Regions from separate parts of the Homo sapiens genome. Here regions 1, 2 and 3 are each linked to region 4. The links come from fine-mapping of genetic effects on gene expression. A gene starts in region 4. Each other region holds a variant in brackets. All regions are shown on one strand. Distances are between the middles of the regions.

Region 1 (8,110 bases), 43 kb before region 4:
GCAATTCTCCTGCCTCAGCCTCCCGAGTAGCTGGGATTACAAGTGTGTGCCACCACACCTGGCTAATTTTTGTATTTTTAGCAGAGACGGGGTTTCACCATGTTGGCCAGGCTGTTCTCAAACTCCTCACCTCAGGTAATCTGCCTGCCTTGGCCTCCCAAAGTGCTGGGATTATAGGCTTGAGCCACCACGCCCAGCCCACACTGGTAAATTCTATAATCATTAGTTGTATGGAAAAGTACCTAGCGCATTGTTGTTGCACAATATATTTTAAGTGAATGAATGAGTCTCCAGTGTAAATACATGAACATGTAAAACACTACTTTGAAATAGGAAAAAAAATGTCCCAAGAAAAAGAACAAACTGAGACAAGTTTACATTTTTATGTTAGAAAATTCTCATCAAAGCTATGAAAAATTAGTATTCACTTAACACCTAGACATTCTGCTTTATTAGCTTTCGTCTTTTGTGATCTTTCTGTAATCTAAGTAAATATTTTTACAGTTAACACCTACTCATCTTTACTGTGCTACAAAGATTCAAACTAAGCTATGATGGAAAATTTTAAAAAACACACCTATCACAATGGCTAAAATAAAAAATAGTGATAATCCCCCTGGAAACTGTAATAGGTATGTATGATATATCATTGTAGGGTTAATTGTATTTCCCTAGTGGTTAACGATGTCGAACATCTTTCTACGTGCTTGTTTGCCATCTGTATGCCCTATTTGGGTGAAATGTCTCTTCATATCTTTTGCTTGTTTTCTAATTGAATTCTATTTTTTAAATAAGAGTAAGTGAATGAGTGTTTTGAGACAGGGTCTCTCTTGTTGAGGCTGGAGTGCAGTGGTGTGATCTCAGCTCACTGCAACCTCCCACCCACCCACCAGGCTCAAGCAATCCTCCCACCTCAGCTTCCTGAGTAGCTGGGACTACAAGTGTGAGCCAGTACACTCAGCTAATTTTTAATTAGTTTTTAAATGTTTGTTTAAATGTTTGTTTAATTAGTTTTTAAATGTTTCACCATGTTTCCCAGGCTGGTCTTGAACTCCTGAGCTCAAGTGATCCTCCCACCTTGGCCTCCCAAAGTGCTGGGATTACAGGAGAGAGCCACCTCACCCGTCTGATAGTTTTGTTTTTTTTTAAAATATATTCTAGATGCAAGTCCTTTATGGGATGTGTAGTTTGCAAATATTTCTTCAATCTTTAATTTGCCCTTTTAACCTTATTCACGGCATCTTTTGCAAAGCAAAGATTTTTAGTTTGGTGAAGCCTAATTGATCACTTTTTCCTTATGTGGATTGCCCTTTTGAGATAAGTTGAAGAACTCTTCTCCTAGTCCTAGGCCGAAAGATTTTCTTTGATTTTTTTTTTTTCTAAAAGTTTTTCTAAAAGTTTTCTCTGATGTTTTGTGTTTGACATTTACATCTGTGGTTTGGTTGGTGTTGATTTTTGTATAAGGTGCACGCTTTAGGTTGAGGTTCATCTCTTGGCCTGTGGATGTCCAGTTGTTCCATAATCATTTGTTGAGAGGCTTTTCCTTCTCCTTTGAATTGTTTTTGCACCTTTGTCAAAAATCAGGTGGGCGTATTTGTGTAGGTCTCCCTCTGGGTTTTCTGTTCTCTTTCACTGATCTTCTGTGTCTATCCCTCTCTAGGACTCCATTGTCTTGCTGCTGTAGCCTTAACATTGGGAAGAAGGCTTCCTCCCACTTTATTCTTTTTCAAAAATTTTTTGGCTATTCTAAGACATTTCCCTTTCCATATAAATTTTAGAATAAGCCCATCTATGTCTTCAAAAAAAGTCTTGCTGAGATTTTTTATAGGAATTGTGTTAAACCTACAGATCAATTTGGGGAGAATTTCTCTCTTTACTATGTTGCGTCTTCCAATTTATGAACATAGTGTGTCTCTGCTTTGATTCCTTTCAATAGCATCTTAGATTTTCAGCATAGAGGACCTCTGCTTTTTAAAAAATCTTGTCAATCAGTTGGTTAATTCTGAAACATTTAATATGCACTTACTATGTGCTAGTACCATGCTTGGTGCTAGAAATACAAAAATGAAATACAAAGCTTTAAGAAGCCAGAAGGACAGAGTTTGAGAAGAGCATGTTGTCTGAACTGGCATTTTAGCTAATAAAAGCAGAAAAAACTTCCCCCTCCAAAACAATACAATTACAGTGAAATTGGAAATTGCCTAATATTTATTATTAGTAAAAGAATCACGAGATAGAACATGTTTGAGAGTACAGTCTTTGGAACAAGGCAGATCTGAGTTTGAAACTTAGCTCAGGCTGGTCATTTGACTTTGGGCCAGTTGCTTAAGCTTTAGAAGCCTCATTTAAAAAATCTGTAAAGTAGGATGAGAATATACTGAGCTCTGAGGGTTGTTGTAAAGATTGAAGAAAACATTTGTGAAACGGTATAATGCCTGCCACATGTCAAGTGCCCTGGTATAATACAATACAGTTATTTTTATTATTAGTTTCATCTCACTTAAGGGCTAAGGAAAAAAATGATAGGGTAGAAGTGGATAATGGTCAAACCTGGGGTGTGGGGATGGGGGAAAAACAGGGAACATTGAAATCAAAGGCTGATTATTATAGGATAACACAGGAATTAGATCTTCAAAGAGTCTAGGAGTCTTTCTTTAGAAGTCTGTTTTCACATGGAGAACAGCAGGGACAGTTAGTCTAAATTTTTAATTCCACTCTGCCTGGCTTTCTCATACTACATATAGTCATTAGGCCCAAGAAGTCATTAAAGTGTTTAATAAGGTTATTAAATTGACTAACTGCAGCTGCTGAAGCAATTTTCCTAGGAAATCCATATGATTCTAGGTAAGGGGCTGTGGAACTGTCCTCTGTGGCTGACAGCCTGTCAACATTCCTTTGAAGGATGGCGGGCAGTGTCGTGAGGGATGCGTCTAATTAAGAGATTAGAGGTGAACCTTGGCTTCCTGGGTGTGCTATTTGTAGCTGAGAGTATGGGGAAACTTCACTAATTCCTACTAATTGCAGAGTGGGGGAGGAGGAGACCCATGTGAATTATAGAATATTTTAAAATAAATGTACTTTTATTACTTTCAAGTACATATTTTAACTCCCACTAGGCCAACAAATTGTTGCCTGGTACAAGTCTTAGGGGACTAAGTTACTGAAGCTATCAGAAGGATTTTCAATTATTTCTATGTAAATAGGTGCTTCTGGAGTTCTTTAGGGTGCTAGAAAACAGTTTGTTCTCCCAGATCTTAAACATTGCTCTTGGATCCTTATGCTGTTAATTGGCACATCCTTAGAGGAAGGGGTTTGTTAAATTAAGATAAACTTAGACCAGCTGCTAAATAACTTATCATTAATTCATGGAGCCCAAGAACCCAAGTAGATGAGGTTTTAATTTCAAGTGAAGTTTGATTTTCCTTTCCTGAAGGCAGTTTGTTTATTCCTACAGGCATTTATTTATTCATTAAATGATACTAATGGAAGGCATTGGATGTATGAGGCATTCAAGTCTTACAAGACAGCCTAAGCTGCCCTACAGGAGCTTAGCGTCTGCTAGAGGAGGCCTACAGGTAATTACAATACAGCACAGTAGGATGTGGTGAGTAGGGACTATGCCCAAGGCAATCCCAGAGACATTAGGGGCCCAGAGGAGGGTCAAATAAGTCATACTGGGTGAATCTGAGAAGGGTTCCCAGAAAAAGTGGTGACCGAGTTGCATTTGAAAAATGAATTGGAGTTGGCAAAAAATAGTAGAAGAAAAGAGAAGATTAAAAAAAAAAAAAAAAAAAGGCAGTAGGGTGGCCTAGCAATCCAGGCAGAGAACAGCTTAGTTAAAGGCATGGAAGTGTGAAGTGGCATGTTGCTTATGGGGACCTATGCTTAGCCTTTGAAGATAAGCAGAGTGAAAATCATGAAAGGCTGTATTGTGCTAGCTGAGGAGTTTGAACTTGAAGGTTATGGGGCAACCTTTGAAGGATTTTCAGAAGGAAAGCAACATCATCAGATACGTGTTTTGGAGCCATTCTTGTCTTCATGTGGGGAATGCACTGGATATGGGCCC[C/A]GAAATAAATTAGCAGTTCTTGCATTAATGTTGGGCAAGAGGTCCTTGAACCAAGGCAGTAGCAGAGGGAATAGTTGTCAGTGGTTCCAAGGAGAATGACTATGAAGGACTTGGTCTGTGTGGATTTGGGGAATGAGTCAAACAGAGGGGTCTAGGAGAACTGGGTTTCTAGCTGGGGTTGGTGGGAGATGCTCTTCACTGAGAAGGGGAGCAGGATGCTGTGGGAAGGGTATGGACATGGCGTGCTCAAGGGACTTCTAGGTGGATCAGGCTAGAGGCTGGATCCATGGGAGAGGTGCCTGCACTGGGATGGAGCTTTGGGTGGGGTCCATCAGCTCATGGGAGGGGGTTGAATGTGTTTGGATGAGGTCACCCTAGAATTGCAATAGTGTGCAAAGAACAACAGCCTGGGTTGGCTCTCAGGCACAGAAACGTTTCAGGATGCAGAGAGGGAAGAAGTTTGCCATCCACAAGAGAATAGTGATATTTAGCACTCCAACCAAATTAAAGATTTTCAGGATTGAAACAATATGTGGAGTCTTAGTGCTGCAATGAATTTTGAGTGTGCATTTAAAAGTTTAAGAGACACACACACATACACGGTGACAAGAGATGGAGGTGAAAAGCATAGGCCAAGAGCAGAGTACCTGGATTTTTGCTTCTGTTTCCATCCCTGGGCAGAATCTGCTTTATCACACTGTGATTAGGGGATATTATGGATATTTGGTTTAAAAATGGTTTTTAAATCCCTCTTATAATTTAGAATGTGCTTTTAAGAAATGATGGTTGTCTCTTAATGCGCATGAAAAAAATAAAGAAATAGAGAAGAAGAAATACTGGCTGGGGCACAGTGGCTCATGCCTATAATCCCAGCACTTTGGGAGGCTGAGGCAGGGGTGTTGCTTGAGCCTAGGAGTTCAGAATCAGCCTGGGCAACATAGCAAGACCCCATCTCTAAAAAAATTAAAAAATTAGCTGGGCATGGTGGCACCCGCCTGTAGTCCAGCTACTGGGGGCGGGGTTGGCTAAGGTAGGAGGATCATTTTAGCCCTGGAGTTTGAGGCTGCAGTGAGCTGAGATCGTACCACTGCACTCCAGTCTGGGTGACAGAGTGAGACCCTATCTCAAAAAACAGAAAAAAGAAAAGAAATAATGGCCAAAGAGCATCACTATAGTGTTATCTTGTGTTTTTTTTTTTTTTTTTTTGACCAAGTCTTGCTGTTGTTGGCCCGGGCTGGAGTGCATTTAGTGGCGTGATCTTGCTGCAACCTCCGCCTCCTGGGTTCCAGCAATTTTCCTGCCTCAGCCTCCTGAGTAGCTGAGATTACAGGCGCCCAACACCATGCCCAGCTAATTTTTGTATTTTTAGTAGAGATGGGGTTTCACTATGTTGGCCAGGCTGGTCTCGAACACCCGACCTCTGGTGATCCACCCGCCTCAGCCTCCCAAAGTGCTGGGATTACAGGTGTGAGCCCTGCCTATCTTGTTCTTATTCTATCCCCTAAATGATTTTAAAAATACACAATGAAAATATTTTAAAAGAAGACTTTTTGGAACAGTAATTCATAATCCCTGTCTACTAAAGACAAGTAGTGGGACAGAAGTCTCCAGTGCAAGGACAAAGTGTTGCCCTAGAAGGTGAAACTTGATAGGGGCAAAAGTTATTTTCAGAGTGTGGTGTATTTTTTTGATTAAAAAAAATCCTCTATGATGAAGAGTCTCATTTAATTATCTGCATGATTCAATGGAGGTGCTTTGTCCAGAAAGCCCCCGATCTCTCTTTTTCTTCTGCTCTCAAGCGTTCATAGCCTGCCTCTCAGATGTGCCCCAACAAGCAATAAGAAATGCCTGAATTCCAGCATTGAACTCCCAATCTTATCAAAAAGCTCTAATATTTAAAATCAAACTCAGTTAGCAAGTTTATGATCACTGAGTAAATAAGTTATACTTAAAAACTTATGTGAAACATGATAGTTTTTTGCTGTACATTTTCAAATTTTTAAACTAAACCTATTTAGTAAAGAGCACCTGTTAAAAAGTATTGTTTTAATTTTTTTTTTTTTTGAGACGGAGACTTGCTCTGTCGCCAGGCTGGAGTGCAGTGATGCGATCTCGGCTCACTGCAACCACCGCTTCCTGAGTTAAAGCGATTCTCCTGCCTCACAAGTAGCTGGGACTACAGGCACACGCCACCACGCCCAGCTGATTTTTGTAGTTTTAGTAGAGACAGTGTTTCACCATGTTGGCCAGGATGGGCTCAATCTCTTGACCTTGTGATCTGCCCGCCTCGGCCTCCCAAAGTGCTGGGATTACAGGCGTAAGCCACTGCGCCCGGCCTATTGTTTTAAATTTTGCCCCATGTTTTCTATTCTTATTATCTTTATAAAAGAACAAAATTATCTACTGTATATGATTTTTAATATCCCTAACTTCTATGTATAACACAAAGGTATTATGAAGATGAAATGATTTAATGTAGGGGAAATGTATTTTAAAAATAGAAAAGTATTATGTAAAAGAAGGTGTTCCTCTTTCTATTAATAAGTTATTATCGCTTATTCTCATGTGGCTGGGATGCATGCACAAAGTCAACTTCAACCCTCTTTGCTTACTTTTCCCATGAGCTTTGGTGTCCTTTCTTTTTCTTCTTTTGATACAGGGTCTCGCTCTTTTGCCCAGGCTGGAGTGCAGTGGCACAATCAAGGCTCACTGTAGCCTTGACCTCCTGGGCTCAAGTGATCCACCCTCCTCAGCCTCCTGAGTAGCTGGGACTACAGGCATGCACCACACTGCGCCTGGCTAATTTTGTATTTTTTGTAGAGATGGGGTTTCACCATGTTGCCTAGGCTGGTCTCAAACTCCTGGGCTCAAGAGATCCTTCCAAAGTGCTGGGATTACAGGTGTGAGCCACCCTGCTTGGCCTGGTGCCTTTCTTATTTGTGTCCTAGGAAGCACCTTACCCAGAAGGGCCCATTGTTTCAGTTTAGAGAGATGAAGAAAGTAAGAAATGATCACTTTTTAAATTTGAAAAAAACCTGAACCAATTATTTAAGATTAAAAATTAAAAATCAGTTTTACAGTATACTTTGTCTTCAGATAACCAGTAAAACTATCCAGAAGTGCTCCCACCTCAGTGTTGCATTATTTTAAAAATTCCATTATGTGGCAAAAGTGTGTTCTAGATTTGCTCGTGGTGCCTGATTCATTAACTTTACTTCTTGTTTTTTAAAGGATTACAAGTACCACATTGGTTAAAGCTCATTTCAGTTTTGTTTTAGTGCAGTCGTTTTGTTCAGTTCTTTCCAGTCCTACTTGCAGTTCTGAAGAATATTTCTTTGTTTATGATGCCATTACAGGAATTTGTAAGTGTCTGGGTTCGAGATCCTAGGATTCAGAAGGAGGACTTCTGGCATTCTTACATTGACTATGAGATATGTATTCATGTAAGTATGTAGTCAGTAGAAATAGTAATTTTGAGGGACTTTTATGGGATACATTTTATGGGATAAAGTTGACACTTGTAAAAGTTTTTCTCATTCAAATAACTGAATTTGAATGATTACAACTAATGCTTTTATCTTACATGAACTAGTAAGATGGTTCCTAAAGTTGAAAAATTACTTATTTGAATCCCTTATTGTTCCTTTGTTAATATTAACATTTTAATGTTTATTGCCTTCACATGTGAAGATGTGCACGCATCTAAAATGCATGGGTAAAGAGTACTTATAGCTCATTAATGGCATTTCTTATGATCTGCTATAGCATATTTCTGGATAATATAATGCCTGATAACCTTCAAGTTTGAGAGGATATAGAGTTCTTTGGAAAAGAGATGTGTGGTGTTTTATATATAGAATCAGAAGGTGGGAAATGGATATGTGCAATTATTGTGATTAATTTATCTAGAATCTGAGTAATTAATGTAACGAGTAAGCAACTAGAAATGATGTGCCTTGCGTGGATGCTACTGTATCACAATCTCTTGAAAATGTTGTGTGGTGTGTGGCCTTCTGTGACCATCTTAAACAAGGGTAAGCAAAC
Region 2 (8,110 bases), 27 kb before region 4:
TTGTATTTCTTCAAATATTAAGGAATATTAAAGATTTTTTACAAAAGGCTAGTGTTGAACCATGACAGCTAGTTTTACACACACACGATTTTTATGTCTTTGTGTTCAATAGAGGGCACCACAGCATAGATCATGAATGTCTTCAATGAAGATTTGTAGGTTTTATTTTTTCTTATAGTAAGAGCTAAACAGGCTGAGTTAATTTTTTTTTTCTACATCAAACTGCTAACCTTCCATGTACTATGCAGTTATGTATATATATCATTGTATTGGGTTCAGCAGACCCAGGACATCCTTAGTTAGGATGAAATGATTTTGCATAGCTATATATTCTCAGCTAAACCAGCATATAATACATCTAATAAAATCATGTTGAGGAAAACTGTGCTTTTCAACTGTGTCCAGTTTAGGGAAAAAAAACAGATTTTGCTTTGTTTAGTCTAAAACTGTTATGGGGAAAGGAATAACTTCTGATTTGCACTATAAATATCTTTCTAGAAATTCTTTTAAAATCCTAGAGGCTATTTTTTATTCCTTTTATAAAGGTTTGAAAATCATATACTTTTTAAATGGAGGTTTCTACAAATGACATTTTATTGACTGTTTTACAAAGTACTCTTTATATTAGGTTTGAAATTGATTTTGGGCTATTAGATTTGTTTGTGGAAAATATGGCACAAACATGACTAAGGAAAAAATAGTATTTAATATTATGATGGTGGCAGTCACAGCCCTCTCTGATAGTAAGCCAAATAGTACTCAAAATAAATTAATTATGCTCACCTAACCAGATGGGAAAACACTCTCAAAAATTTTCATTTTAAATTTCAGAATGAACTATCTGACTAAAATAAGCATATAAATACATTTAAAAATTATTTTTGCTTATTTAAAACTCATGGAGTATGGTGGCATGAATTTAGCCAGAGAAACAGAGGAGATTCCAAAAACCAAAACTGTACCTAGCCGACTCACTGGTTTGAACTCTAGGCCTGGGGGAGTGTTCAGATGTCCCCTCCCCAGCCACATCTTTCTGGCTCTTTGGAATTGTGAGCTGGGTGAGCCTGGCTCCTTCTCTTTTCATCTGTGTGTCCTCCAGATGGCAGTATTGAGCAGAAAAAGAAAACGCTGGGAAATAATGAGTCTAATGTACAGTAAAATTGGAAATTGAATTATAGCTCAAGAAAAAGGACAGTAGCCTTGAGGTCCCGATCAACCTGGACTCTGATCACTTTTGTTTGCTGTACCCATGTGTTAAGTTACTAGCAAGTTAATAACAACACGTGAGCAGTTCAAGGCTCAGTAGAATTGCTTCAGACATGAAATAAAGCTAAAATGAATTTGTGTCCAATATCATTGGCATTAGTGCTCATTACTGTTGTGGTGTAATGCCTCAAACCATCTAAAATCAATTTTAAAGATTACCCATTATTTTATAAAGAAAATAAAACACATTTCCAACAGAAACAAAGCCACGAGTACAATCCCATGAACAGTTCCTTGTACTTATGGCAGGCAGGAAACCGCTGACAGAGGCCACAGGAAACACTCTGCTCAGACTTCACAGACTTCACGATCCAAGTTCGTATTAATGGATTGTTGCTCTATAACTCTTCTCTTAATCTGAAGTATTTAAAAACAAGAATGGTGAATATTTGTAAATGTAGAAAATAAATCTCAAAGAGTAGTAAGAGGGATTTACTACTTAGCTACTTGTACTTGGTAAATTAATCATTATCATGTGACATGGTCATCTTTTGGGAGGACCCAGGGCGGAGGACACAGAGGGAAAAAGAAGGATTTAGCTGCTTTGCTTGAGGTTTTGCCTTTTAAAAAGCACAAAGGTTTTACTTTTCCTTCTAATAGACCAGTAAAGAATATTTTCTCAAACTGTAAACCTGCTGAAGCAAAGGGGACAGCTAGATTTTGGTTTTAATACTGTGCATTTTTAGGCATTTTTGCCTTTGTTAAGAAATAATTGTTTTATTTTGTAGAAAAGGATTTGGTATTATAATGACCTTGGATTTTCACTAAATTGATATTAATGGCCAAAAGAGATTTACTTTCCTTATTACTTGTTTAAACAAGCAGAATATAAGGTAAGGTTCATTTGGTCTGAAATACATGATCTATTTTTCACAGATCGTTATATCGGAAAAATCTTATGTTGGACAAAATTCTACTTGGGTTTTAGTGTGTTAGTTTTGTCCCCTGTATCTGGTCTTAGTGTCTCCTCTTACATAATTATTGAACTATCAGTAGAGACTAAATGATCATATGTCAACATCTTTGCTAAAAGATAAACCAGTTTTTATTTAAATATAAAGGTATACTTTGATTTGATTTCATATTCTAAGATGTGCATTTCAGAGAAAACACATTCACTAATATGAATTTGAGCATCTGTAGATTTTGCTACAGGATAGTTTTTAATCTTCCATGTAGTTCTGATGCCCTGGTTGAAATCTGTTCTGTCTTTGTAAACTTTGATCTTAAATGTGGGAAGAGCAGTATGTATTCATCACAAAATTATCATATTTTAATTATATATATGGTAAAGTTGGCTGGGATCAATTTTATTTGGTTGCTCATTTTGACAACACAGAGATTCAGTGCTCCTAAAGATTTTGGAGAAATTTACAGTTAACCTTAAGTATTAAAAAAAGCCATCTCTCTCATGAGCTGTCGTAAACATGCCCTTAAGTATATAACTGTAAAGTTTTAAAATGTAAAATATGCTGAGAATTGTATTTTCTTCATATAATTTTTAATAGTAGTTGAAAGTTTTGATGTTTCATGACAGCCTATCCCATAAAGATCACTGAATTGACATGCTGTTGGCAGTAAATTTTTTAAAGTAGAATAACTTTCTATGACTATATAAGCAAAATATTTCCATAATTAATCCACATGGTAATAAGAGATGGGTAAATTGAAGAAATGTCCTTGAAGTTATTCTTTTAACAGATGTTCTTAACTATTAGCTTCATGTTTTTACCCACCTAAATTTCCAAATAATTGAATAAAAGTTAACATATGCTTTCCTCCCCTTAATGGGCAGAGCCCATAATTGATACAAAGTTTACCACAGTAGAGAAATTACCTTCAGTGGTACTTTTCTAATGTTTTTCTTTCTTCTACCCTATCACTGACCATCCTGTTCACCAATTATTTTTCCTTTTTTTTTTAATATAGAGTCCTACAGAATGCACTTTTGCTTTCAGATAGCAGCCTTCACCTCTTCTTACAGAGCCATCTGAATTCAGAAGACATTGAGGCGTGTGTTTCTGGGCAGACTAAGTACTCTGTGGAAGAAGCAATTCACAAGTTTGCCTTAATGAATAGACGTTTCCCTGAAGAAGATGAAGAAGGAAAAAAAGAAAATGATATAGATTATGATTCAGAAAGGTATTTCCTTGCATTTTGATTTAATGTATATGTATTTATATAATACATAGTATGCACATATGCACGTGTATAGATATATATACACACTTCACTTTTTTGTTGATATAATACTAAGATAATGAAA[AAATT/A]AATTGACTGAGATTTTATTGAGCTGTGACAGCTCATCATAGTAGTCTTCACACACACCTCCACACTGAATTAATGAATGCAGTAGAAATTCAATTATTTGCATTCTGATTATGTGACTTTCATTTAGTCAGACTTGAATTATTCGCGTTTAAATTATCTAGCTAAAAAAATACCCAACTGCACTCCAAATGGCTAATTAAAAGTCCAAATTTCCTGTCTCTCTTTGTGACTGGAGATAATTAAAGTTCTCCTCTGTTACTCAGGCTTTGAGTGTGTTGTGAAAACCAATTTCCTCTTTTTATTATTTTCCCCCTCTCTTCTTTTCCAGTTCATCCTCTGGGCTTGGACACAGTAGTGATGACAGCAGTTCACATGGATGTAAAGTAAATACAGCTCCGCAGGAATCCTGAAAAATAATTCTAATGTTACTATCTTAGGAATAGCAAATTATGTCCAGTCATAGAGAAGAAAGCTTCATAATAATACATTCTTACCTAAAGCTCACTGTCATGATGTTAGGTATTTAAATTCTTAAAGATGTTGGGTTGTTTATTAGTGGTATTTTTATGTTGTCTTATTTTAGGTAAGCTTCTGTGTAAAGCTAAAAATCCTGTGAATACAATACTATCCTTTACAGGCAGACATTATTGGTAAACAAGATCTTGCCCTCCAATGAAATGACTTACATGTTTTAAAAAACCGAGTTGGTTTTATTGAATTTAAAAAGATAGGTAACTAAGTAGCATTTAAAATCAAGATAGAGCATTCCTTCTTGTATCAGTGGGGCAGTGTTACCATAAACACGGTGTATATGTTGTTAAACCCTATGAAGAGTAACAGTGTAGACCAGACTGCCTCTCTCAGATATGTGCCTGATATTTTGTGGATACCTCCCCTGCACTGGCAAAACACTATGCTTTTGGGTGTTAGACTGAAATATTTTAAGAGTATTTAACCTTTCCAGTATTCTGTTTCACGCTTAGATGGAAATGTATCTTATGAATAGAGACATATTAAAATAATGTTTACATCTTAGAAAAAACATAGATAGTGCTAGTAATATTACTTATAACTGTAATATATAGATTCAGAAATACATTTTCATTATCCAAAATCAGCTTCAACAAATGGTTTCTGGAGACAAATAATTTGTTTTCATTATCATTGTATAATCAGGTTAATGATTTATTTTTTGACTAAATGTGCAATTTCTTATCACTAGATAACTTTCAGTATCAGTGGTGGTTACTTATTACTTAAATCAGAGGAAGGATTTTATAAAGATTAATAAATTTAATTTTACCAATAAATATTCCCATAATTTAGAAAAGGATGTCGACTTGCTAATTTCAGAAATAATTATTCATTTTTAAAAAGCCCCTTTTAAAGCATCTACTTGAAGATTGGTATAATTTTCATAAAATGTCTTTTTTTTTAGTGTCCCAAAGATATCTTAGATAAACTATTTTGAAGTTCAGATTTCAGATGAGGCAACATTTTCTTGAGATAATTACCCAAGTTTCATCCATGTTGAATGGTACAAAATATTTCTGTGAAACTAACAGGAAGATATTTTCAGATAACTAGGATAACTTGTTGCTTTGTTACCCAGCCTAATTGAAGAGTGGCAGAGGCTACTACAAAAAGCAACCTTTTCATTTTCACTAAGAGTTTAAAAGCTATTGTATTATTAAAAAGTCTTTACAATGCTTGTTTCAAAGAACCAACAGAAAAAAAAGCTAAGAAAACTGAGAACTAACATTAAAAAAATTAAATTTAGAATAAGAATGATTTCTTTAATTTGTCCTTTTTTTCTTTGGTCTAAAACATTATTAAATTTTTGTAAATATTTTGATTTAATGTGTCTTAGATCCTCATTATTTTAATACAGGAAAAGAAAAGATTTAGTAATTTCTTACCATGCTAATATGTAAAGTTCATGCCATCCAGGCATTTAAGAGCGATCCTCATCCCTTCAGCAATATGTATTTGAGTTCACACTATTTCTGTTTTACAGCAGTTTTGAAAAACACATACTATGCCACCAATTGTCATATTATTTTTAGATGATGTAACATAGCCATCAAAATTAATATTATGTAATGCCTAATACTTAGTATGTAAATGTCACGAGATCATTTTTACATTAAACGTGAAAAAAAATCAACTTTGCCGGATCACTTATTTTATACAAGAGAATATATTCTGCCTTAGACCCAAACTCAGTGTTTTTTATTTTTTATGAGGAAATTTGGTAAAACATGGTTTAATATTAGCTATAGTTGTACATATTTGAGGCTTTTAGCCTTGGTTTAGTTGTTTCAATGTCCACACACTGGCTTCTTAAAACTGATTTCTTGCAGCTGAGATATTTAGATGAACTTCAGTTCCCAGTGGTTTTCTTGCTTTGTCTCTTATTTTTCTCTGGCATATTTTTTATAAAGCTTTCTTTAGGAAAAAGAAAATAATTACTGATGTAGCTAACTTGAATAGATGTTTATTTAACACTATTTTTAATGTGACTTAAATGTAAAGAATTCTAATCCTGGATTCTTTATGATTACAATACAGCAAAACTGCATTTTCCCTGGCTGATTCTTAAAGGGTAAACTATTCACCTATAAAGCCAACTTACGTGTTTTGTTGTAGAACTAGATTTATATATAACCCAAAGGTGTCAACAGCACTGAACGTCAACAACCTGTTACTTCGGCTTCTTATAAAGTCTCACTTAGAAGAAAGTTACTTAATTCTAGTTAAAATTTCAAGTTTTAAAAATTACTAGGGACAAACAAGTATTTATTTTTAAGCAGATACTATTCCTTAAGATATGAAGTATCTTGCCAGTTTTTCAAACCTAGTCCACATTTTATTGAATAATTAAATACAAACAAGTGATATGCAGTATAAAGTAAAAGAACAAAGTTTCTTTTATGACAATTAAGAAGTTAAACAACTTCATTTAGCCTGGCCACAATAACCGTTATATCCAACAGTAAACTGGACGTTGTTTTGAATTTGGTTTGTATTTGTTGGATGCCTTAAGGATTCATTATTATTGAGCTACTGTGATACCAATAAGGTTTTCAGTATTTGAGCTATAAAAGACAACCCCTTTTCATTAGAGGCCCCTTAACATTTTAAACGAAAATAACAAAGCTTATTCTGTTTCTAAATAGTCTTCCTCTTAATATTTAAATTACTTAGCTGGTATCCTGTGAATACAAGGCAACATCTTTTCAATGAAGGAAACAATTTCAGTACAATTTTGTGTTTTTGTTTGGAATATAGACCTTTTCTTAGTTTATTATATATAAACACATTTTCAAATACAAAATACTGTCTGAAATTAGTTACTGCAATTTGACATTCAAAGCATAGAATTTTCTTTGCAAATAAAGGTCATAAGAAATTAATAATTTTAATAGAGTGGAGTTCAAAAATTTCAGAAGGATGTAAATAAGCAACAATTTCTTTAACATTTGCTATATATACAAAGGACTTTGGTTCTATTCTTTGCCATATGCATCTTACAAACGAGTCACCATTGTCCCTTTTTAGCAGACACAATTGCGCTTCACTCCTACTGCAAACTTTTCTAGATCATGAGCAGTGCATTGGACACTAATTTATTTTAGCTGCGCAAACTCTGGTAGTTAATGACCCTTTCTCTTTCTCCAAAATTCCAAAGACTTCTTTTCAAAAGATATAGAGGAAAAGAGAAAAAAAACCATTAAGCTACAATTTCCTGCTGAATTTAAACTCTGGTCTAAAGACACTATGTAAATGGCTTATGCTAAAGAGGAAAATACCCTTTCTCCCCCGACGAGAAGTGTAGATTCATCCAACCCCACACCGCTTGTCTTTGCTGCTAGAGGCACAGCACGGGCATAACTTGTGGTTGTGTTTTTGCTAGTTTCTTACCTCTGGGCCTTCTTTATAGCTTTGCCCCCCACCCCACTGGCGGTGGCGCTCCCGCGGCTGCACCCTCGGCCGCCTGTTGGTTGCGGCGCCTCCGCGGCCCGCGCGCATCCCCCGCGCTGCGTCCCGCACACGCGCGCTCCCGCCGCGTCCCGCCCGGGCCGCTCCGCTGGCGGCGGCGACTGGGCTGCAGGTAGCGAGCCAGCCGGCCTCGGTCCGGTAACCCATGGCAACCGCCCTGGTAACCCATGGCAACTGCGCGGCGGAAAGAAAAAAAAGAACCGTGGTGGGGCGGGGGGCGGCGGGCGGTGAATGGGAACAACGACCGCAAAGAGACAGCGATTTACCGCGCGGGCCTGCGGCTCCCGGCCGCACCTGCTGCAGACGGCCCGCGAGGCCCCTTCCCGCGCTACGGTGACGATTCTGGCTGCTGGGGAAAAGAGCAATAAGCAGAAAGCCCTCGTGCAGAGGGGATCCGGGCGGTGCACTTGGTGTGGGAGGCTGCCTTAAACGCCGATGACCCTCCCGGCCTCCGCGTGTCCCGGCTTCCAGGGCCCCGCCAGGCTGGAGAGCGCGCGTGGAGAGGGCCTTGCCGCCTGGGGGTTGGTTGAGGGGCGGCCGCGCCGGGGCCGGGGCTGGACTCCAGGCTTTG
Region 3 (8,110 bases), 20 kb after region 4:
TGTTCACACCCCAGCTTGGCCAGTGGTTATTTGTGTAAACCTTGGGTAAGATACTATCTCTCCATGCCTCAGTTTCCCATCTGTAAATGGGAATAATAGTAGTACCTACCTTATAGTGTTGTTGTGATAAGTACTTGAATTAGTATACATTAAGTTCCTGAAACAGTGGACAGTACCGTAATATAACATGGTTGGTATTTATTATATTATAAAAATGTTTACTATTTTAATAACATATCATATATATAAATTTGATATAAATAAATTGAATCATACATGTTATGATTCAAAGGAATTGTTTAGTCAATTATGATTAAGTGTGTGGCAAGTTGGCCGGGCACGGTGGCTCATGCCTTCAATCCCAGCACTTTGGGAGGCTGAGGCGGGTGGATCACAAGGATCGAGAGCATCCTGGCTAACACGGTGAAACCCTGTCTCTACTAAAAAATATAAAAAAATTAGCCGGGTGTGGTGGCGGGCGCCTGTAGTCCCAGCTACTCGGGAGGCTGAGGCAGGAGAATGGTGTGAGCCTGGGAGGCAGAGGTTGCAGTTAGCCAAGATCGCACCACTGCACTCTAGCCTGGGTGACAGTGTGAGACTCCATCTCAAGAAAACCCAAAAAAACCCAAAAAAGCCTGTGACAAGTCACTTTCTTTCCAGGTCCCTAGAAATGCAACATTTTTTTCAATGCCCAGGGAAGTTTTGCCCAGCTTGCCTCTAATACAGCAGCCATATTGTAGCAGAGGAATTGTTTTATGGGTTGCAACATTTAAATAAAAGCTTATTAATTAACTACTCAATTCCTTCTGAGGCAGTTTGCAATGGTTTTATTTCAATGTATACTGAAGGGCATTCTCACTTCTGCCTCCCACTGTGTTAAACATAACAGACATTGAATATACACTTATAGCATTGAACTAAGATAAAAATGTTTGTTTAGGCTTGAACTTAGTTGACTTAACTTCTATCATTTGTTTAGAAATTGTCATTTCTTTGCTTTAAGAGCTGGAAAAAATTGCACTAAATAGCAACCTATTTAGACATTTTAAAATACAATTCTTCTGCATGAATTATCCCCATAGAGGTCCGGTTGTGTCTGAGTTTGCTAATGAATCGAGTCACACTCTATTTGTGTTGATGGATTCCAGGCTTTAACACTCTAAGGCTGTTCTTCTAATGTAGGTGTGTGTCACATGTTGTGTTATTATCCACATAGTTCTGAGCAGTGTGAATCGTATGGATATTGGAGAGGTACTTTTTTTTATCTCCTATATTCAAGCTGGGAGTGAAGGGAAAGCAACTTACTTGCTGTCAGTTCCTGGAATTTTTTCTACCCATGCAAGTAGTAGGGCATTGTCTCAATTTATGTTCTACTATTGATGGAGCCCCTACACTGAACTTTCTGGGAAAAGCCAGGAGCTTACTCCTAGGAAGACATCAGGATGAAGGCTCATGACCAGCTTAACATGGCTCTCTGGCATTTCTATGAATCAATCCTTTTATTGACCCCAACCAGGGCGAATTTGAAAGCAGGATCCTTTCAAAGCCCTGGCCTCAAGTTATAGTGCACCCAATTTCTGACTTTATATTCCTATCTGTTGTAGACTTTCCATGCTTTCCTATAGTGCTTATCACAAAATCAGTTGTCCTTTGTGTTTCTTTTCCTGAGTATTTGCAGGAATGAGTCAGATCTTGCTTGTAATATATGGGGAGCCTAGAGGAAAATGGTGTTACTTTACGAGCCAGCCAACAATTCCTTTCAGGGAGGAGACTGCCTGCCACCTTAACGGAAGCATTTGGCTATGAAGATAAGGCCCTCAGGAGATAGCCTGGACAGTCTGGAGCTAGACTGAGAGAGAGCACACTACTCTGTGGAAGATGTTTACAGGAATTTGGGGGCGGGTGGAGAGCAGAGGAGAAATAAGAGAGGAGAGGGTTGAAGTGAGTGAGAAGGCAAGATGGCGGCAGACCCTGGGACCTAATGAGAGCCTTAAGCAGATGGAAAGACTGTGCTTCACGAGAACTGAGGGGTTTTCTGGGGGTGGAGGGATAAATCAAGTAAAAGGGGTTACATTCAAAATCTAGGTTGGCATGGGGCAGCTATGGGAGACGAGACACAAGTGAGGTCAAGAATCCAGCCAAAAGAAGCCACTGGAGATAGGGAAGTGACCATGAGAATATAAGCTGTCAGGAATTCTCAGACATCTAGGGGAAGACATTGGCCCTTCACAGGATGTGGGAAGGAGGCTTCAGCCAGTTTTTGTTTAAACCTCAAAGCAGAGAGTGATCTCAGCTGATAGCTGTATTATACATTTGTACCAGGAAAAAAAGTGTTTTTGAGTTAACACATTTTTGGAATACTGTTACAGAGATGAATGAAACCTTAAAGTAAATTTTATGACTTACATGTCTCATAAAAAGAAAGGCGTATCAGCAGCGTTTAAAAAAAGTTATTTTATAGGATTTTTTTATTCTAACGGATAGAGATTGTCTTTGGAGAATATAAATATTCTAAAGATTTAATGAAGTTATCTGAAGCCACATAGACATTAATTAGAGTTCTGTAATTAGAATTATAGTTATAGAAGCTTCTTGCTGCAAAATAGAGGGTAATATTTCAATATTTCAGGTTTACTGTGCTGTTGGAGCACAGTACCTGATGCATTTTCATATACCATGGCTTCAATAATTCTTTCTAAATAAGCATTTTGATAGATATTTAATAGTTTTAAAATTAATGTTGGGGTAAAACCCATTTTTATTTGTGCTCATCCCAGCCCTCCTTCTCTCACAAGCAGCCCGTCTGCTTTCTGCGCACAGAGCCACCCAAACCGATCATGACACTGAATCCAATCAGAAAAGCAGCATAAAGATGAAAGGTCTTACCAATGAGAAGTGAACTTGCTAAAGTACACCTTTCAATGAATTTGGACAAAACTGAAAAATGTTGTTGATATCAGATCCTTAGGCTGATTACTGAAGCGTTCGATTTTTCAGCATGTCAATTCATCACTGTCTACCTGGTTATATTTAACACTTTCTCCTGTTTCCAGCATGTCTGCTGAGACAGGCAATTGCTGTCACATGATATCTGCCTCTCAAGAAGGTCAGCAGACCATTGGGAGGCCGTGGTTTCTGTCCTCCAGCTGCCTTGATTCTTTCTCAGGTATTACTGACAGCAGATGGAGCCTCAATGTCTTGCAGGATCTAAAATATTAATAAGATTAGGGCTTTTATCCTTCAAACAGTTTAGCCTTTCCTTTTAGAGGCTCTGCACAATGTCTCATCTGTTAATTTATAATACTAGCTCTCCAGGAAGACCTGACACCACTTACGGATACCAAAATACCACTTTGCCCAGAGTCCCTCTTTTTCACTTCGTCAGTGTGCTGGTTCACGTTTTAAATCACGCTCATCTTTCAGAGACATTTGGAGGAGTTTAATTCCAGTTTGAGATGAGAGGTCTTGGGGTGCGTTTTAATAAATATTTGATGGGAATGCTAGCCTTGGGGGGTCATTCTTATTTACAAAATTAGAGATGGCATCTCTTAGGAAAGCTTAACTTCGTGGAAGAGGCGGTGTTTATAAATGCGCACAGCACTCTCATGCACGGGGTGGCCGCCACTTTTCAGAACACAGTAGTTATCCACGGTTCCATTTTTAGAAGCAGTGATTAAATTGCAGAGCACTGCTGTGTGATACCAATTACAATAACCATTGTCGATTCAATTGTCTTTTTTTTTAATGGAAAGCAAAATTCACTTTTCTGCATATAGCCTACAAAAATACATATATCATATGGTATGCAATTTAGATCATTTTAAAGGGCTGTAATGGCATTAGTTTAGATATCCCATTCCAGTCAGGCAATGAGCATCAATTTTGTTAATTAAGAATTTTAGGCTCTGTAAATTTATAGTACAATTACACTTTACTTCATATTGAAGAGGGTCTTTACCCCATGCCACCATTAGAAAAACGTCCACTTATATTATTTGCTGACGATTTCACAGGCAGATAAATTTCACAGGAAGCATTACCATTTCTTTTTTTGCATTGAAATTTCTTATTGAATGCCAATTGTCAGCAGAATGCAACCATGAAGACTTTTGA[G/C]TTAAATTTTTCTCTTTTCTTTTCTTCTTTCTTTTTTTTGCTAAAGAAAAAGCCAATTCATCAGGTAGGAAAGGACTGCTTTTCGTGGTCCCAGGTCCTGCCAGAGACAAATGACTGTAAAAATTTAAAATCAGTTATTAACAGATTAGCTGTTGGTCCAAAGTAAATAGCTTATTAAGCATCAGGCAGAGTGAGATAAAGGGGAAGAGTTATTGAAAATGAGGATGTTGTCTGGGGCTCTGCTTGTGGGGTAGCACAGGAGGAGGCTATTGCTTTGTGACTCTAATTACAAATGGAAAACAAGGTAGTTGGCTGAAAAAGTTGAATCCCTCGTTGTGTTAAACAGAGTCCTGTGGTTTTCTGTTCTACGTCATGGCTTTATTCACCTTGATTAGCATGGAAGTTGGTTGTGCTCCCCAGCTGTTCTCCTCTTTGCCTTCTAAGCAAAATCTGTCAACTGCTGTTCACTCAACCCCGCAAAGCAGCCCAGAAACAGTGGCTAAGACTCCTTAGTTTCAGGAACTGGACATTTCTTACCCCTTTGCACTAGTTCACATCTCATTATTGGTTAGGTTGGGGTTGTGAAGCGAAGGGATGGCTCATTAGCTGCTTCCCTCTAGGTTCAGATGTGTGAGCTACTATTAGACAGATGCCACAGTAATAATTGTTGCAGGCAAATTCCACCATTGAATGCTAAAATCAGTGGTGAAGGTTTGAGGAGAAACAGGATATTTGCATAGCTTCAAAGTATCTTTCCCAAGATATGTATTAATTACAAAACAAAAACACTACCATTACAATGGTGAAACCCAACAGATAGCCCCTTAACCAAGTGATCAAGGTTAACTTCACTAGTAACCAGATGGTGTCCCCCAGACCCCCGGCCCCTTCCCCAGACACGATGCACTGAGAAGGGCACACGTCATTTTTGTGGCGTTCTTACTAAAAATGTATAATCTCACTCTAGTCATGAATAAACAGCAGACAAACCTGTTCTACACACTAACTGGCCAGTACTCTTTCAAAGTGTCAAGGTCATAAACGTCAAGGAAGACTAAAGACCTGGTACAGACTGGAAGAGACTAAAGAGACAAAATAGTGTGGGATTCTGGATTGAATCCTACAACAGAAAAAGGAAGTTAGTAGGAAGCTGGATGAAAGAAGTTAGTAGAAAAACTGGTGAAATGCAAATGAAGTCTGAGGCTTAGTCAGTAGTACTGTACCAGTTAAATTCCTGGCTTTGGTAATGATACTCATATAGTCAGGATGCTTTGGCCCCTCCAAATCTCATGTTGAAATATGATTCCCAGTATTGGAGGTGGGGTCTGGTGGGAGGCGATTGGCTCATGGGAGGGGATCCCTCGTGAGTGACTTAGCACCATCCCCCGGATGATGAGTAGGTTCTTGTTCAATTAATTCATGAGAGATCTGGTTGTTTAAAAGACTCTGGGACATTGGTCTTCTTTTTTTCATGCTCCCACTCTCGCCATGTGACATGCTGGCTCCCTGCTGCACTCCGCCATGATTTTAAACTTCCTGAGGCCTCACCAGAAGCAGATGCCAGCACCATGCTTCCGGCAAAACCTGCAGAACTGTGAGCCAATTAAACCTCTTTTCTTTATAAATTACCCAGTCTCAAGTATTTTTTTTTTTTTTTTTTTTTTTGAGATGGAGTTTCACTCTTGTTGCCCAGACTGGAGTGCAATGGCCCAATCTCAGCTCACTGCAACCTCTGCCTCCTGGGTTCAAGTGATTCTTCTGCCTCAGCCTCCCGAGTAACTGGGACTACAGGCGCGTACCACCACGCCAGGCTAATTTTTGTATTTTTAGTAGAGATGTGGTTTCACCATGTTGACCAGGCTGGTCTCGAATTCCTGACCTCAGGTGATTCACCTGCCTGAGCCTCCCGAAGTGTTGGGATTACAGGCGTGAGCCACCGCTTCCACCCTCGAGTATTTTTTTAATAGCAATGCAAAAATGGCCTAATACAGAAACTATGATTGTGTAAGATATGAGCTTTGGGAGAAGCTGGGTGAAGGAATACAGAACTGTCTGTACTATTTTTGCAACTTTCTTAAAGTTATTTCAAGATAAAAAGTTAAACAAAGGGAAAGATGCACTGAAAGAAAAAATACTGCATAAGCTCCAGAAGCTTCTACTGCAGAACCAAGCCTGTAGTCTGGGTTAATTTGAACTTTTTATCTTACACAGTTATGCTTGATTTTGGCCAAAGCTTGAGTAAACCATAGCTTTTGATGGAAAAACAAAACAAAACAACTTTTCTTTGTGTGGGGTCCTTCTTCACAGTTTCTTATTGTGAATAACTTCTTTATTGATAAGTGCATTCAGTAAGGCAGGCGGAGACAATCCCAGTTTGTGGAATGTGGGATTCCAGTTTGTGTGACTTGGATTCCCAGTTTGTGTGAATTATATACTATGTTAGTTATTCTCATGCATCTGCAGGCTGGCCAGGGTCGGCTCTGCTTCATCCTGCAGGTCTGGGTCTGCTCTTTCTCAGATCAAGGATCTAACTGGGACACAGTCTTCTCAAGGTGAGAACAGAAACTCAAGAGGGCAGGCGCCACTACACAAGCACATTGTAGCCTAAGCTTGCGTCCTGCCTGCTAACATCCTGTTAGTCCAAGCAATTCACTTGACCAAGCCCAAAAGTCAGGGCGGTGGGGATGCAGTACATTTGTTTGTGGATGTATCTAATCTAGCATAATACTTCTGGCCTATGTTGCCTCTCTCTGGCCTGCTTTCTGGGCCCTCTTTCCTTGCTTAAGTGCAGATATTGAAAGATTGGCTTGCCCCGACTGATCTGATTCAGTTTCATGAGGGCTATGACTGCTTGGTGGTCTCCCAAAGTGAGAATGCTCCCTCCACAGTACGAGTGGGGTCTTAGAACACTATTTTGCACACTGAGGTGTTATAGAATTGTTTTGAGACCCCCCCCTCAGTTCCTACACAGGTATGTAGACACCATCAGCTTAGCTGAGGCAGGTGCTCCAGGTACCAGGCCTGCCAGTTTTCCAAGATCACCACTCATGTCTGGCTCTCAGGCCCTCTGCAAAGAGTGGCTTGTCCTGCCAGACCCCATGCCACATGGCGAACTCTCTCCTACCATCTCTCATCTCTCTCACAACCTGGCTTCTGGTGCCTTGAGACATGTATGCAATTGTCTGACCAACAGCTATGAAAACAAAGTTCAAGTTGATTGACTTGTTTGTTTGGTTTTTCCCCAGGAGGTTCCTCAGCTCAGTTCCTATTTACACTGGTGGCTGTAAATAGTTAATTCTCAAGAGACTTAGTCCTCTGTTCCAGACAACTAGTGTCTTGAAGTAGAGAGAGTATCTTACTTATGGTCTATCCACTGCAGTGAGTGGCCCCAAATAGTATAAATTGTCAAAAGGCATCTGTTGAACAGAGATAAAATTCTGAGTCCTTCATAATCTGACCCAGTCTAATTTCCCTGGACTCTCCAACATTTCTCTCCACTAGACATTGTCATTTTTCTCATTGTCCCTCAAGTCCCGTACCATTTCTAACCATTACCACAACTTCTCAGTGTCCTGGTTGCCCTCCACTCCACTCAACCCTGGTTGGCTGTCAGGGCTCACCTGGAGCTCACCTGCTGCAGGAAGCCTTCCTGAAACTCACTCACTGCAGAAAGGCTTCCCAGCCACTCCTGCCTTTGATGAACTCTCTCTTTTTCTTTTTTAATTTTAAATTTTTTTAATTTTTATTTTTTTAAAATTTTTTATTATACTTTAAGTTCTAGGGTACATGTGCACAACGTACAGGTTTTTACGTATGTATACATGTGTCATGTTGGTGTGCTGCACCCATTAACTGGTCATTTACATTAGGTATATCTCCTAATGCTATGCCTTCCCCCTCGCCCCACCCCACAACAGGCCCCAGTGTGTAATATTCCCTGCCCTTTGTCCAAGTGTTCTCATTGTTCAATTCCCACCTATGAGTGAGAACATGCAGT
Region 4 (8,110 bases):
CTACAGACAGGTTTTCTATTACTGAAATCAAAGTTATCCTAAGAAAAACAAGCAGCGTATGAAGCTTTATTTTATCACATCTGACAGAACAGCTCAGCCTTAAGTTGGGAGTAAGATTTATACAATTCTGCTGATAATATTTATTACTCATTTTAATTGTTTGCATGGTAATATTGAAGCCCCCCAACTGTTAGGAAATGTGCATTATTTTAACAATACTGGGTATCAGTAAATAAAATATGCTAAATATTGCTGAAAATAAACACTAAGTAACTCAATTTGTGTCATTATATGTGAGGAATGGGAAAAGCTTCTTGGAAGAGGTGATATTTAATCTGGACTTGGAAAGATCGGTGATATTTGAACAGTTGGACATGAAGTTCAAGGGCATTCTAGAGAATGTCATGGGAGAGGAAATGCAATAGCATGATTTGGGGATGTACTGTAGTAGACAAATAAGGCTGGAGCTGGGTTAGGTGCAGATTGTGGAGGGTCTTAAATGTCTTGCTAAGGGAGTGTGGAGTGCCTTTCCTCAGCAGTGGGGAACAGAGATATTTGAGTTAGTTACTGTGTATTGATTCCAGATAAACGAATAAAGCATATAGTATGTATATATTTTTTATAGTTTTTTTGGTATATTTTCATGAAAAGTGTGTATGATTTTAGTGAAACCATAAAAATCCATTTTCATTCCAATTTAGATTCTGTTTTAAAGTAGTTGCCAAGGAAACTAGTAAGTGACTGGTTATGCCCGATTTTCCCTAAGTTCAAAATTAGATGCAAATTCTTCAAAGAGACTACTTGAAGGCCAGTAAACATTTCAAAGGCAGTCAAGCTCAGACGCCTGGGTGTGTGGGTGCAGGAGGGTTAGAAGGGGGGTTCTGATGTTCCTGGAGGGAAGAGATGCCTTGCCTGTGTAGGCAAAGAGCTACTTTGAGGGAAAAAAGCTGAATGAGTTAGAGGTGAGTGCCCAGGAAGAGAAGCTGGAAGTGAGAGGTTCCACTGAAGTGCCTAGAAACAGACACTCTTTAATGGAGACAAGACCAAATTTCTGGAGTTTTCCTTTGTTTACATCTTTTTATCTTGTCTCGTTTCAAAAAGGAGTTAACTTTAAATATGTCCCTGAATAAACACGAGGCAGCATGACTCCATCGCAGGTAGAGATAGGACTAAAACATGATTCTCCTAAACTTTAACCCTGGAGTTAGCTCACTTAATCCTGTAAATCTCTGCAAAGACTAACTTTGTTCCCTGGCTCCTCCGTGGTTGCCAGGTGGTGGATATACATTCTACAACAGAAGAAACTGGAATCGCTAGAGGTGTCTTTTTTTAGGGCAAGGAAGCATTTCCCAGAAAACCCCAACAGATGTCCCCTGGCTTGGCCTTGGCCAGGACTGGTCACATGCTCTTTTCTAAGCCAGTGCCTGGGCAAGGGAAGGGGTTGGTCATAACGGATTTAGACTACTTAGGATTTACTTCTGGGCCAAGGAGAGGGAGGGGGTGAGGGAGGGGGTGAGGGAGGGGGTGAGGGAGGGGGTGAGGGTGGGGGCGGGGGGCTGGCCCGGCCTAAGATGGCTGGGGGTGATGCGTTCGGGGGACAAAGGAGTGCTGGACAGTTGTGTGAGCTGTAAGAAGGACCCGGAAAATACTGCAGAGTGATTGAGAGTGTAGAGGGGCCTGGGTTCTCACCTGTGCTCCCTCCCACCTTAGCTGGGTTATGCTGGGAACCTTTCAAGGCTTTGCTAAGCCTGGGTTTCCAGGAGTGCAATAAGATCGCTGTGATAAACATGTAGGTAAAGCAGTTGGCATAGTACCTTGCGTAGAATAGTCCTCAGCATATGTTTACTACTGTCGTTGTTGCTATTAATAAAAGTGACCTAGCTCCTCTCCTCGAGAAGTTCACAAGGGGCCCAAATGTGACAGGGGGAGCTATCAGAAGGCGGGAGGTGACTTCTTGCCAGGGAGCAAGCCAGGGCAAGAAGAGAGGCGCCGTGAAGCCTGCGTTCCCTCCCGCACGCGGCTTGCCTCGGTGGCCACACGGGGAGCTCAGCAAGGCCCAGGGTTCGGGAGGCGGGTCCTGCACAGCGACGCAGCCTTGTCCCGGTGGCCGCAGGCCTGGGGAGCAGGGCGCAGCACACCCGCCGCCCGCTTGCAGGCGAGACGAGAGCGGGGCGCCGGGATGCTGGCGTCCAATTTAACCACCAGGGCGCACGGGACGGAGGCCGGGGGTCCCGCTTTTCCGTCAGAGTTCGCGGTCACGAGTGGAACCCACTGAGCACTCTAGTTTCCTGGTATTTTCATGGCAGTAATTGGATGACAGAGTCAAGAGGCAGGGCCTGCGCCGACACTGACTAGCAACGCGCGGCCTCTGAGCCGCGCCCGGCCGCCCACCCCTTCCTCCTCCAGCACCGGGCCGGCTCCCCCTCCCGGCCCGGCTCGGCGGCTGGGGGGTGGGCGGAGCCGCGGCCGGGCAGTTCATTATGTTGGACAGGGCGCGTCTGCGCCTCCGGCCGCCGCGGCTCCCGGGGCCTCCGCCTGCAGCCGGCGGCGGAACGAGGGCAGGCGGCTGAGACAGGCGAGCTATTTGCATTCCCCGGCAGTCATTTTTATATGCGGAGGTAATGAAGTTGTCAGCGGCGCCCCGAGTGTGGCAGAGCCTGATATTCAAATCGCCCTGCCCGCTCCGCCTGCTCCCGCCCGCTGGTCCCGGGAGCCCCAGGCTGCGCGCGCCCGCACCGCATCGCCGCTTTGCCCCGCGACCGCGCGCGCCTCCTCGTCCTCCCCCGCGCCTTTGTTTCCGTCTCCTTCTCCTTTCCCTCCTCTTTTGTGTCGGGCCAGACTCAGCCCCAGAAACCAGCCACCCTGCCGCGTCCGACTGCCAGGGATCCCTCACGCCGCGAGGTGAGCTGGTCGCAGGTGTGGGGAAGTTCGCGGGTGCAGCTAGGCCGCCGCCCTCGCGCTCGACGCCACGCCCGCCTCCTCTTTCCTTCCCCAGGGGCCCCTTGCCCTCCCTTCACCTCCGTCTCCAAGAAAGATGACCTAGTACTGCCATTACCGTTTGGGCCTAGAGGAGTTTTCGTTCCTCTTTCCGAATGCATATTTGTGGTCATTTTTTATGATTGCAGAAACCCAACACACAGCTATTCTGTCAGGCTGCCGAGAAAAGGCTGTTCGGCAGTTGCAGCCCTGGTGAGGCAATGAGGAGGAAAGGTGGACGCACCTGCCTGGAGTGGTTGAAGGAAGGCAGTGAACATCCACGCTCCTGGGGTTGGTTTTCCTGAACCTCTGTAGCTGTGCTGCTCACTGGGGCAGCCACTGACCACAAGAGGCTGCCGAGGGCTTGCAGTGTGGCCAGGCCAGACCAGGATGTTCTCCAAGTGGGAAATACACACCCCATTGTAAAGAAGACTGTATGGAAAAAAGAATGTGAACTGGCTCATTCATCATTTAAAAACATTGATTGCATATTGAAATGATAATATTTTGGGTATATGGGGTGAAATAAAGTATCATGAATTAAATCTTTTTTTAAAAATGTGGCCACAAAGAACATTTAAATTTACACATGTGGTTCACATTATATCTCTGTGGGATCGCACTTAAGACCCAACCCCACCCATCCTCTAACTCTGCCCTCTCAGCTTGCTCTACAGGTACTTTGGAACAGGGCAGGGATGGAGGGAAGGTCCTTGTATCTTAGGGATCAAATGCCCAGGAAAATAATTAGGAGGTGTTTGGGATTATGCTGAAAACCCTGACAACACTGAATAGCAGATGTCTCTTTCTTTTCCCTTTGTTCACTGTAAAGAAAAACTTACACTCCCCCACAGCCATGCCACAATTCCATGGACCAACCATTCATGTGTGAAGGTGGGCCTCTAGGAGTGTTTTGTGCCTTTTAGGAGTTATTTGTGGCACACTAAACTTGCTGACATGCCATTTAGAAAAGTGAATACTGTGTACGCACTGTAACAACTATTCCATAAGTATTTTTGGTGTACACTGTTCCTCAGCACTCACAGGCTTCGGAGTAGGGGCTCCCGGAGTATGCATTGACACGATGCGCTGCAAATGATCCGGGCGTGGGGAAGTCCCCGAGTGTGCATTGATTCCACACACGGCCACGGCTCCTACAGGGCTTTTATGGTGCAGCTCGCCAATGATCCGTGTGTTAAAGACTCCCCAAATACACATTGACACGATAGACTGGAGTTGTTTGGGTCTATCGTGGCAATGATCCGGGGATAATGGCAGTGTCTTATACAATTTCACTGAGATTGGAGTGCTCATGGTCCTAATGGCAGAACCGGAACTGCCCCAGTTAAGTCCCACCATGGCGCCCAGTAAAGGGTGTGTGGGTCTTTGACCTTCTGCTTCATGACACTGTGGCATTGCTAATTTTACTGATATTTTAACTAACATAATTGAGTTAGCATTTTTTTCCCCCTGAAAATTCATTTTTGTAATTCAACACCTGAATTAGGGAGTCCATCTAGTGATGGTTTCATTTGGTTAATCATAAGCTAAAGACCTAGGAAAGGTCATTCTTAAACCTAAAGTGTTTTGGGAAAAATAATCGTGGGAGATGCATATGAGCTTGAGACAGAGTTAATATGGAATAAATAACCTCAGTCCTGAGAAAACCTAGTTGGCTAGGCTGAAATAGACAAGATGAGAAGGTGGGAAGAAGATGTTTTTAAAAATAATGAAAGTAACATATTCAATAAAAATAATTCAAACACTGTAGAAGTGTATGAAATAAAAAACAGAATCCTCCCACTCCTTCCTTCCTTCTTTCTATACCATTCACTGTTACAAGCACTATTAATATTTTTGTATATTCTTCCAGTAACTTAAAAACACATGCAAATATATACAGTCATGCATCTCTTAATGATGGGAATATGTTCTGAGAAATGCATCGTTAGGCGATTTCATCATTGCACGAATATCAGAGAATGTACTTATACAAACCTAGATGGTGTAGCCTACTACCCACCTAGGCTATATGGTATAGCCTATTGCTCCTAGGCTACAAACCTGTACAGCATGGTACTGTAACAGAATACTGAAGGCAATTGGCCAGGCACTGTGGCTCACGCCTGTAAATCCCTGCACTTTGGGAGGCCAAGGCTGGCCTTCAAGACCAGCCTGGCTAACATGGTGAAACCCTGTTTTTACTAAAAACCCCAAAATTAGCTGGGCTTGATGGCATACACGTGTAGTTCCAGCTACTCAGGAGGCTGAAGCAGGAGAATCACTTGAATCTGGGAGGTAAAGTTTGCAGTGAGCAGAGATCATGCCACTGCACTCCAGCCTGGGCAACACAGCAAGACTCCATCTCAAAAAAAAAAAAACAACACTGTAGGCAACTGTAACACAATGGTGAGTACTTATGTATCTAAATGTAGAAAAGGTACAGCAAAAATACAGTATAAATGGTAAAAAAAGAAAAAATACAACTGTATAGGGCACTTACCATGAATGGAGTTTGCAGGTCTAGAAGTTGCTCGGGTGAGTGGAGTGAGTGGCGAGTAAATGTGAGGGTCTAGGACATTGTGTATACTAGTGTAGGCTTTATAAACACCGTACACTTAGGCTACACTAAATTTATATTTAAAAAGGTAATTGCTCTACAACATTGTGATGGCTATATTGCCACTAGGCTATAGGAATTTTTCAGCTCCATATTAATCTTATGGGTCCACTGTTGTATATTTGGTCCATTGTTGACCGAAATGTCATTATGTGGTGCATGACTGTATATCTACTCTTTGTTTACACAAATGGGTTAATGCTGAATGTTAATCTTCAACATCTTATATTTTCAATTAATAATACAGTCATGTGCCCCATAATGATGTTTTGATCAGCAATGGACTGCATATACGATAGTGGCCCTGTAAGATTACCGTGGAGCTGAAAAATTCCTATCGCCTGGTGATGTCTTAGCCCTTGTAACATCTTAATGCAACACATTAGTTGTGTGCTTGTGGTGGTGTCAGTGTAAACAAACCTACTGCGTTGCCAGTTATTTAAAAGTATACCACATACCACAGTATGCCACATTATCAAGTACATAATCCTAGATAATAACAATAAACAACTGTTACTAGTTTATGCATTTACTATACTATTTATTATTATTTTAGACTACTTTCTACACATGCATACACACATATTTATACACACATATATGTATAAAAGTTAACTATAAAACAGCCACAGGCAGGTCCTTCAGAAGGATTCTAGAAGAAGGAATTTTAATAGAGGAGATGGGGGTGGGCACGGTGGCTCACACCTGTAATCCCAGCACTTTGAGATGTCAAGGTGGGTGGATGACCTGAGGTCAGGAGTTCGAGACCAGCCTGGCCAACATGGTGAAACTCTATCTCTACTAAAAATACAAAAATTAGCTGGGTGTGGTGGCAGGCACCTGTAATCCCAGCTACTTGGGAGGCTGAGGCAGAAGAATCGCTTGAACCCAGGAGGCAGAGGTTGCGGTGAGTGGAGATCATGCCATTGCACTCCAGCCTGGGTGATAAGAGCAAAAAAAAAAAAAAAAAAAAAATGAGATGGCAGTTCTATGCACTGATGACCTTACAATGGGACAAGATGTGGGGATGGAAGACAGTGATATTAATGATCCTGATCCTGTGTAGGCCTAGGCTAATGTATCTGTTTGTGTCTTAGTTTTCAACAAAATATTTAAAAATTAAAAACAATAAAAAATAAAAATTTTAAAAATAGAGAACAGCTGATATAAATAAGGATAAAAAGGAATTAAATAATTTTGTACAGCTATACAATCTGTGTTTTAAGGTACGTATTATTACAAAAGAATCAAAAGGTTAAAAAAATTAAAAATTTTATAAAGTAAAAAGTTATAGTAAGCTAAGTTTATTATTGAAGAAAGAAAATAATTAATAAATTTAGTGTGGCCTAAGTATACAGAGTTTATTTATTATTTTCACTTTTTATTTTTTTGAGATGGGGTCTTTCTATGTTACCCAGGCTGGATTAGAACTCCTGGGCTCAAGTGATCCTCCTGCCTCAGCCTCTTGAGTAGCTGGGATTACAGACGTGCATCACCATTCCTGGCTAGAGTATAGAGCTTATAAAGTCTATAGTAATGTGCAGTAATGTCCTAGGTCTTCACATTCGCTGTCTACTCATTCACTGACTTACTCAGAGACACTTTCAGTCCTGAAAGTTCCATTCATGGTAAGTGCTTTATACAGGTGTACCATTTTTAATCTTTTTTTTTTTTTTGAGGTGGAGTCTCGCTCTGTCGCCCAGGCTGGAGTACAGTGGTGCGATCTTGGCTCCCTGCAACTTCTGCCTCCCAGGTTCAAGCGATTTTCCTGCCTCAGCTTCCTGAGTAGCTGGGACTACAGGTGCGTGCAACCATGCCCAGCTAATTTTTTGTGTTTTTAGTAGAAACGGGGTTTCACCATGTTAGCCAGGATGGTGTTTATCTCCTGACCTCATGATCTGCCAGCCTCGGCCTCCCAAAGTGCATTTTTTATCTTTTATACTGTATTTTTACTGTACATCTCCTATGTTTAGATACACAAATACTCATCATTGTATTACAATTGCTACAGTATTCAGTACAGTACCATGCTGTACAGGTCTGTAGTCTAGGAGCAATAGGCTACACCATCTCGCCTAGGTGTGTAGTAGGCTCTATGATCTAAGTTTGTGTAAGTATACTCTATGATGTTTGCACAATGATGAAATCACCTAACGACACCTCTGTCAGAAAGTATCCCCATCATTAAGTGATGCATGTCTATTGAACTTTACTCCTTCTTAGCACATTTAGATCTGTGGCGTCCTTTTAAATAACTGCATGGAATTCCAGGGTATGGATATAACAATGTTTAGATGTATGCTATTTCAATCATTACTGCAGTGAATATCCTTATAAGTCACATTTGAAAATTTGTGCAAGTATGTTCATAAAATAAATTTTTAGCAGTGGAAATGGAGCTAAAAAGACGTACATTAAAAATGTTGATATATATTGCCAAGCTGATCATCTTACACACCGACTAACAGTATGTGTGCTTAGTTTCCCACTCCAGGCTAACGTTTTATCGTGGAA

Direction of the effects. Alleles are on the strand shown, and positions count from the first base shown. SD is a standard deviation of normalised expression in the study named.
For the expression in subcutaneous fat of the gene that starts at base 3,298 in region 4, A is the high allele of the variant in region 1 and C is the other (moderate effect, 0.43 SD a copy in GTEx).
In carriers of allele A in region 2, the expression in substantia nigra of the gene that starts at base 3,298 in region 4 tends to be lower than with AAATT alone (small effect, 0.33 SD a copy in GTEx).
With allele G in place of C in region 3, the expression in pancreas of the gene that starts at base 3,298 in region 4 is lower (moderate effect, 0.57 SD a copy in GTEx).

Evidence for each region. PIP is the estimated chance that this variant, and not a neighbour inherited with it, causes the effect.
Region 1: its variant is fine-mapped to the expression of SNX10-AS1 in subcutaneous fat (GTEx, PIP above 0.99).
Region 2: its variant is fine-mapped to the expression of SNX10-AS1 in substantia nigra (GTEx, PIP 0.96).
Region 3: its variant is fine-mapped to the expression of SNX10-AS1 in pancreas (GTEx, PIP above 0.99).

Annotation. Positions count from the first base shown.
Region 1 is chr7:26,353,553-26,361,662 of GRCh38, forward strand. It overlaps SNX10 (sorting nexin 10), which reads left to right. Exons shown (of 7, transcript NM_013322.3): 3 at 7,423-7,509. Among named protein-coding and RNA genes, the nearest start is that of LINC02981, 41 kb to the right of the region's middle. The variant C/A (reference allele first, on the strand shown) is at 4,067.
Region 2 is chr7:26,368,626-26,376,735 of GRCh38, forward strand. It overlaps SNX10 (sorting nexin 10), which reads left to right. Exons shown (of 7, transcript NM_013322.3): 6 at 3,196-3,408; 7 at 3,866-5,758. The coding sequence ends at 3,947. It overlaps SNX10-AS1 (SNX10 antisense RNA 1), which reads right to left. Exons shown (of 2, transcript NR_136272.1): 2 at 3,394-3,943. Among named protein-coding and RNA genes, the nearest start is that of LINC02981, 26 kb to the right of the region's middle. RefSeq lists a silencer at 8,055-8,110. The variant AAATT/A (reference allele first, on the strand shown) is at 3,533.
Region 3 is chr7:26,416,308-26,424,417 of GRCh38, forward strand. The region is part of intron 1 of LINC02981 (long intergenic non-protein coding RNA 2981); the gene reads left to right. Among named protein-coding and RNA genes, the nearest start is that of SNX10-AS1, 21 kb to the left of the region's middle. RefSeq lists an enhancer at 1-25. The variant G/C (reference allele first, on the strand shown) is at 4,114.
Region 4 is chr7:26,396,121-26,404,230 of GRCh38, forward strand. SNX10-AS1 (SNX10 antisense RNA 1) reads right to left here and starts at 3,298. Exons shown (of 2, transcript NR_136272.1): 1 at 3,221-3,298. It overlaps LINC02981 (long intergenic non-protein coding RNA 2981), which reads left to right and starts at 2,449. Exons shown (of 5, transcript NR_148502.1): 1 at 2,449-2,901. RefSeq lists enhancers at 1,585-2,541, 1,616-1,855 and silencers at 2,326-2,785, 2,876-2,985.